Homo sapiens: one gene and its partner. The protein of the gene in region 1 interacts with the protein of each later gene in a pairwise test. Each region holds a gene or a part of one and is shown on either strand. Other genes may lie near its edges.

Evidence for each region. Proteins that work in one complex are often made in the same cells at the same time.
Region 2: the proteins of HTR2B (region 1) and SLC44A2 interact in a two-hybrid assay, tested with the Homo sapiens proteins (one large-scale study listed by BioGRID and IntAct).

The regions. Positions count from the first base shown.
Region 1 is NC_000002.12:231,122,817-231,126,564, forward strand, and holds the start of HTR2B (5-hydroxytryptamine receptor 2B), read right to left. Parts: upstream 2,227-3,748; 5' UTR 2,186-2,226; coding exon of another isoform or gene 2,156-2,185; exon of another isoform or gene 1,315-2,155; 5' UTR 949-1,314; coding exon 597-948; intron 1-596. UniProt on the Homo sapiens protein: G-protein coupled receptor for 5-hydroxytryptamine (serotonin). Also functions as a receptor for various ergot alkaloid derivatives and psychoactive substances.
Region 2 is NC_000019.10:10,623,967-10,627,714, reverse strand, and holds the start of SLC44A2 (choline transporter-like protein 2), read right to left. Parts: upstream 2,163-3,748; 5' UTR 2,082-2,162; coding exon 2,045-2,081; intron 1,463-2,044; coding exon 1,414-1,462; intron 1-1,413.

The sequences.
Region 1 (3,748 bases):
CTTTGGACACTCTGAGCCAAACCATTTCCTTCAGCAACTAAACATAATTTTTCTTAACATGACACATATGTAGGAATTGTGTTCAAGTTTATAATATACAAACTATTAAGAGCTATAATAAGAATTTTTGGACAGTTCCAATTTTAAACTGGGGTTTAGTGATTTAAATTGGGATTTAGTAATTCAAAGACCTTATCGTTAACCCAGCGCATATCTGTCCCGGAAGTGTCCTAGTTATTGCTTTGAGGAAAAAAAGTATCAGTGTAGAAAAGTTAAAGTATAGGCCTATTTACTATAATTTATAGATAATATATTCAGAATCTATAAATATCACTAACTTGAATGACTTTTTAAATGATTTTATTAGATAGCTTAGGAGGGAGAAAAATAGTTTACAAAAAATATTTTTTGCTCTTTAAAACTGCTGATCAACCATAGAGAATGATATAAAACAAGGGACTGTTTACTTGCCGTATCTTTAAATAGTCCAAGTTCATCTTTTATTTCAAGAAAAGTAAAGATTAAATGAGTGTCCATTCTCTAATAGTATATCATAGTTCTGTGGTTTGATGGCACAAACAAAGTGAAATACTTACCAAACATTATTGTCAAGAGGGCAATTGGCATCACAAACAATCCAACCAGCAAATCAGCCACCGCCAAGGACATTAGAAAGTAATTAGTAGCATACTGCAGCTTCTTCTCCAGTGAAACAGCCAGAATAACAAGGGTATTTCCACCAATTGTGGGTATTATCACCATGAGTATCAGAAGAGCTGCCCAGTGCAGTTTATTTCCCTGTTCCTCAACAATCTGTTTCATTTCCTCTGGTATTGATTCTGTCTGTAATCCAGACCAGTTAGAAGAGATAACGTGAACAAAGGTGCTCTGCAAAATGTGCTCAGGAATTGTGCTTTGAAGTTCAGACACTCTGTAAGAGAGAGCCATTTGCTGTTTTTCTGTGATTCAATCCCGTTCCGAACAGTGGTCAGCATGGTTAGTAGCTAAGCTGCTCATCTGTTTTTTTAAGGCATTGTAACCATGCCAAACACTCAAAAGCCAAAGTTGACACCTTCCTTTAAAAAAAAAAATTCAAGTTCTCTAAAATGAGCGCATACACACATCTGTCCATGTTTGTAGGTAAGATATCCAAGTATTTATTATTTTCTAGAGGCTTAAATTTAGGAAAGCTCAGTGAAAGAAACTGATAGCTGTGAAAAAAATAGGATATATATATATTTTTAGTTTCTCTCTCTCTCTTTTTCTGCCGTAGTTGTAGAGTCGTGTTTGAACTTGCATGCCAGAGAGTTCCCCCTAGATACAAAATACATAGACTGCATTATTTTATTCATTTCTGAAAGTGGTAAAAACACTTGAACTTCATAGCCCTTCCCTTCTTAGTAAGTCTGTTGTGCATTTGTGACAATGCAGCCAATTCTCCAAATATACTGTATTTCTGATGTTGCTCAGTTAATGAAACAGAAGACACATTAATTTTTTCAATGGTTATAATAAAAAGTTAGGTGTTTCCTGACCCTTGAATGTCTTTTTACCTTTACTTACAGAAGAATAGAAAAGTCGAAACACAATAGTTCAGAATAGAACTTTTAGTATGCGCTGGCCACCCACCTAGAAACACTCAAAGCCCAACAAGGGTCTAAATAAATGTTTTACCAGCTAGGGATCCTTATATGTAATTAGCTTTGTCTTATCAGGTTTGTGAGTACTGATATAAATGTCATTTTAGATTTCCTTTAGTTTGAGAGAAGGAAAAAAAAAGGTATTACTAGGATCCAAATAATTGTGTTTAGTAATTTCATCTCTCATGGTATGTCTTTGCAACAATTGTGTTCTAAATTTAATCACTAAATTTGCCAAATTCAAACCAGTTCTTTTTTTGTTTTAAGTAGTGTTTATTTTTTTAACCTTCCCAGTTGCCTTGAGAAGAAAGGGAAACCAAAAGGAAGATTAGACCATTTATTTGTTCATCAAATGTACAAATCACGTTTTTAAAAACTCTCCTTTAGCATTAGTAAATTTTTCATTTTGATTTTTAAACCGCTGAATAGAAATGAAAGATTATGATAGCAGAATTCTTGAAGATTAAAAAAAAAAACCTTTAGATTAATTCCATATGTGTTTATTAAATGCTTACCTCTGGTTTCGTTGTTATTTTGCTGAGCATGTCATCTTATCTGTTCACTAGACTTGCTTGCTGCTGTGACTGAAATCCTCCTCCCATTGACTTATTCTGAGCCTCCAGCACAGGCGGTTGAAAGCAGTGAAACAAATACGTTGTATAGCTGCAAGCATGCCAAGGAGGTTATTTCCTCTTTGATACATTCATTTTTAGAGAGTAGCAGCATTCATTGTAATTCATAAAACCACTGTTAAGCATGTTGAACCAGTTCATGGCCCTTATTCAAGTTATATTTTTAAGAGCTCTCTTTAATATTTGGGGGGACTGTAATAAACTTGATCATTTTAGCTTCAGATAGTTTTGTTTGGGGTTAAGCCTGAGCTGTTTTTCACATTTGAGAAAAAATAAGATATAATCTAGCTATTTTAGAGGTTTCATTCTTTGAAGATTCTGCCGTTTTAAAAGCCTATAGTGATTTCTACAGTTCTGATTTCTAGCAGTGAAACAAGATTCTTATCTAGCTTTTGTGCCTTTGCTGTGGAACACCATTAATTTGCTCTGGTTGCAACCTTATATAGAAGAGCACAGAAAGGCCTGAATTCTACATGTATACATAGGTTTTAGCAGAAACTTTTTTACTGCTTATTTTTAAACAGATGATCTCTGGGTTTAGGAGTGGTTCACAGCTTTTTTTCCCCATAGACTTTACGTTGGAGAAAATACAAGTAATGAAAATACGTTTTTGCCTTATTTCAGAAAATTGGTGTTTAAATCTTAATAGTTATGCTATTTAAGTTTTCTGTAACCATAAGACTAGCTTAGTATTAGAACCTCAGCATTCTCAAGGTTTCCTTTTAAAAGATCATTATAGATGCATATTTTAAAATTAATTACTTATAAATCAGTGATGACATTTGTGCCCTTTTCTTGTTTCAAATTTGTATTCCTTTGCTCATGTTGAATGTTATTGGAAAATACTTAGTTCATTTTAGCTCTGCTGAGCACTTCAGATTTTATTCAGTATTTGCTGCTTTTTTAAAAACTCAAAATTTACTATATTAGAAAAAATACTTGTGAAGAATTCTAGATGAAATAATATTCAAGAGAAATCAGATGTTTTTTAATGTACCAGAATTTCTATTCAGGAATATGAAAATATTTTAAGGCAAGGTGCGGTGGCTCATTCCTGTAATTCCAGCACTTTGGTAGACCAAGACAGGTGGATTGCTTGAGTCTAGAAGAGACCAGCTTGGGCAACATGGCAAAACCCCATCTCTACAAAAAAAACCACATAAATTAGCCAAGGGTGGTGGTTCACACCCGTAGTCCCAGCTACTGGGCGGCGGCGGAGGGGTTGAGGGTTAGGGGTCAGGGGAGACCTGAGGCAGGAGGATTGCATGAACCTGGGGGAGGTCGAGGCTGCAGTGAGCTGAGATCACACCACTGCGCTCCAGCTTGGGGTGACAGAATGAGATCTTGTCTCCAAGATTAAAAAAAAAAGAGGAAAAGAAATTATTTTTAAATACTGCTTAGTTGTGAGTTACACTTTGACATCTGTGCTTATGAAGGCAGGTAGGGATCTGCAAAACAAGTAATGTCAGATTGAAA
Region 2 (3,748 bases), on another chromosome or scaffold:
GCAGAGGGGCAGTGTTTGGAGGAGGCTTGGTGCTGTGTGCACCATGGGCCCATCTGCCCTCTGCAAACACCCTCATCCATGTGTTATTTGGACAAATTTTCCTGAGTCGTTTGAATGCCGTACCAAAGGGCACATGCATTTTAATTTTTATTTCATTTCATTTTTTAATTTTGTGCAACAGAGTCTCACTCCGTCATCCAGGCTGGAGTACAGTGGCATGATCATAGCTCACTACAGCCTCGAACTCCTGGGCTCAAGTGATCCTCCTGCCTCAGCTTCCCAAGTAGTTGAGACTACAGGTGCACACCACCACACATTTTTTTTTTAATTTATATACATTCTGTAGAGACAAGGTCTCGCTATGTTGCCCAAGCTAGACTTTTTTTTTTTTTTTGAGAGGGAATCTCACTCTGTCGCCCAGGCTGGAGTGCAGTGGAACGATCTCAGCTTACTGCAACCTCTACCTCCCAGGTTCAAGCGATTCTCCTGCCTCAGTCTCCCAAGTAGCTGGGATTATAGGTGCCCGCCACCATGCCCAGCTAATTCTTGTATTTTTAGTAGAGACAGGGTTTCACCATGTTAGCCAGGCTGGTCTCGAACTCCTAACCTCAAGTGATCCACCTGCCTTGGCCTCCCAAAGTGCTGGGATTATAGGTGTGAGCCACCGTGCCTGGCTGTATTTTATTTTTTTGTTATTTTTTTTTGAGACAGAGTCTCGCTCTTGTCCTCCAGGCTGGAGTGCAGTGGCGCAATCTCAGCTTACTGCAACCTCCACCTCCCAGATTCAAGCAATTCTCCTGCCTCAGCCTTCTGAGTAGCCTCTGAGTAGTCACAGCTACTGGAGAGGCTGAGACAGAAGACGTGCTTGAACCAGGAGGGGAAGGTTGCAGTGAGCTGAGATTGCACCACTCCAGCCTGGGTGACAGAGTGAGACTCCATCTCAAAAATAAATAAATAAATAAATAAATATAAACATGGTAAAAATTAAGTCCAGGCCAGGTGTGGTAACTCACACCTGTAATCCCAGCACTTTGGGAGGCCAAGGCAGGTGGATCGCTTTGAGCTCACGAGGTCGAGACCAGCATGGGCAACACAGCGAAACATCTCTGCTAAAAGTACAAAAAAAAAAAAAAATTAGCCAGGTGTGGTGGTGCAAGCCTGTAATCCCAGCTACTTGGGAGACTGAGGTGGGAGAATTGCTCGAACCCGGGAGGCGAAGGTTGCAGTGAGCCGAGATTGAGATCGCGCCACGGCACTCCAGCCTGGTGACAGAGCAAGACTCCATCTCAAAAAAAAAAAAAAGTTTCAAATATTTGTCACCAGTTTGTTGGAGAACAGATGGGAGGGGGTGTGAAGAGACAGGGATTGGGGTAGTATTAGCGGGGAGAACCCCCCAAAACCCAGAGCTCTTACCTATTGTAAATGGGTCCTTTGAAAGTGGGATCATACTTCTGTGGCGTTCCTGAAAGTCAAGAAGATTAAGATGGATGGGATTGGAGACCTGAACCAAGACAGGGCTGGGAGAGCCCCCTCCCAAAAGCCCCTAGGGGTGTCTTTGCCTTGGCAAGAATAAAATTCAGAGACCTGTGGAATTTTCTGCCTCACCCACCTCCAGGTGACCACACCCAAGCCCCCAGTTCTGGCAGGCCAGGACAGGGGAGGAAGGAGGGATCACTAACTGTGAACAAACTTATTAACTGGCGGCCACCCACTGGGAAGAGGGCTGAAATGGTGACCACCACGGAACCAGGTGGAGATGGGGAAGATCTGAGGTGGGATAGGGGGAAGGAGGCGCCGGCAGCAGTGCCAGGCAGAGGGGTACAGGGGCAGGTCCTTCGGGTAGGGGAGAGTAAGGAGGGTCGTCTGCGAGGCTGCGGGGGATAAGTGGGGTGAAGGGGCCTGGCTGATGGTGGGGAGGCTCCAGGCGCAGATTTGCAATTGCGCTCCCCCTCCAGCCCCCTTCCCTGCGCCCCATGTTCTCTCAAGGCCCCCTCCGAGGGACCGAGGGGTCGGCCCGGGGCTACGGGCGGGGGTCGCTGCCTACCGTGTTTCCCGTAGTAGTGGGGCCGCTCGTCCCCCATCCCTGCAGGCGACCAGCCCCGGCGGCCGCCCGCGCTCTCTCCCGCGCCCCCTCGACCCTCCCGAGTCTGGAGGGAGGCACTGACCGCGCGACTGGCGGCGGCTCCTCCCAGCACAGCGCCAGGCGGGGCGGCCCAAACCGGTCAGACCGGCCCGAGCTGGGCAGCTGCCCAGACTAAGGGACCCGGGAGGGCGCGGGCGGGGCTGCAGCTGCTCCCGCCACTCACCGGCCGGCCGCATTTAGCCTTCCCCGCCCCCACCCGGGAACCCTGCGGCTTCACCCTGGGAACACCCTGCCACCGGGCGATGCCGCCTAGAACCCCTGGCCACCCTGAAAGGGCGTTTCCGTGGCTTCGTTTTGCAGGTGTGGAAACTGAGGCACTGGGAGGGAAAACGGCCTACTGCCCAAACCCAGACAACCAACTGTGGAATGTTGGTGCTGAAAACTTCTCCAAGCTGTGCAGGAAATTAGTTTTCTTTCTGTCTGCTGCTTTTTTTTTTTGAGACAGGATCTCCCTCTGTTGCCCAGGCTGGAGTGCAGTGGTGCAATCACAGCTCATCGCAGTCTCGACCTCCCTGCCTCAAGCCATCCTCCTGACTAAGCCTCCTGAGTAGCTGGGACTACAGGTGCTCTACTGCACTCGGCTAATTTTTAATTTTTTTTGTAGAGATGGGATGTTGCTATGTTGCCCAGGCTCATCTTTAACTCCTGGACTCGTGGGCTCCTCCCACCGTGGCCCCCCAAAGTGCTGGGATTACCTGCGTGCACTACTGGGCCTGGTCTTAGAACAAGTATTTATTCAGCCCTTAGTGGGTGCAGGCCTTGGGCGGGGCACCGCATACAGTGAGGAACCAGAGAGACCCAATCTCCACCCTTGTGGAGCCCACATCCTCCTGGGTCGCCCTGAATTCAAATGCTCCTTCTGCACCCTCTGAACTAGAGGATACTTAACAAAGGGCTTATCTTCCTTAAGCCTCAGTTTCCTCAACTGCAAAATGAGGCTAAAGTATGAAACCAAAACTGACCTCAAAGAGCAGGCATAGGCCAGGTGCAGTGGCTCATGCCTGTAATCCCAGCACTCTGGGAGGCTGAGGCAGGTCGATCAGGATTTCTAAGCCAGCCTGGCCAACATGGTGAAACCCCTTCTCTACTAAAAATACAAACATTAGCCAGTGTGGTGGCACATGCCTGTAATCCCAGCTACTTGGGAAGCTGAGGCAGGAGAATCGCTTAAACCCAGGAGGTGGAGGTTGCAGTGAGCCAAGATTGCCTCACTGCACTCCAACCTGGGGGACAGAGTGAGACTCTGTCTCCAAAAAGAAAAAGAAAAAAGAAAATAGGCTGGGTGTGGTGGCTAACACCTATAATCCCAGCACTTTGGGAGGCCGAGGTGGGCGGATCATGAGGTCAAGAGATCGAGACCATCCTGGCCAACTTGGTGAAACCCCGTCTGTACTAAAAATACAAAAATTAGCTGGATGTTGTGGTGTGCACCTGTAGTCCCAGCTACTTGGGAGGCTGAGGCAGGAGAATCACTTCAACCCGAGAGGCGGAGGTTGCAATGAGCCGAGATCGTGCCACTGCACTCCAGCCTGGGTGACAGAGCGAGTGTCTCAAAAAATCAATCAATCAATAAATCAAAAATTAGCCGGGTGTGGTGGTTCATGC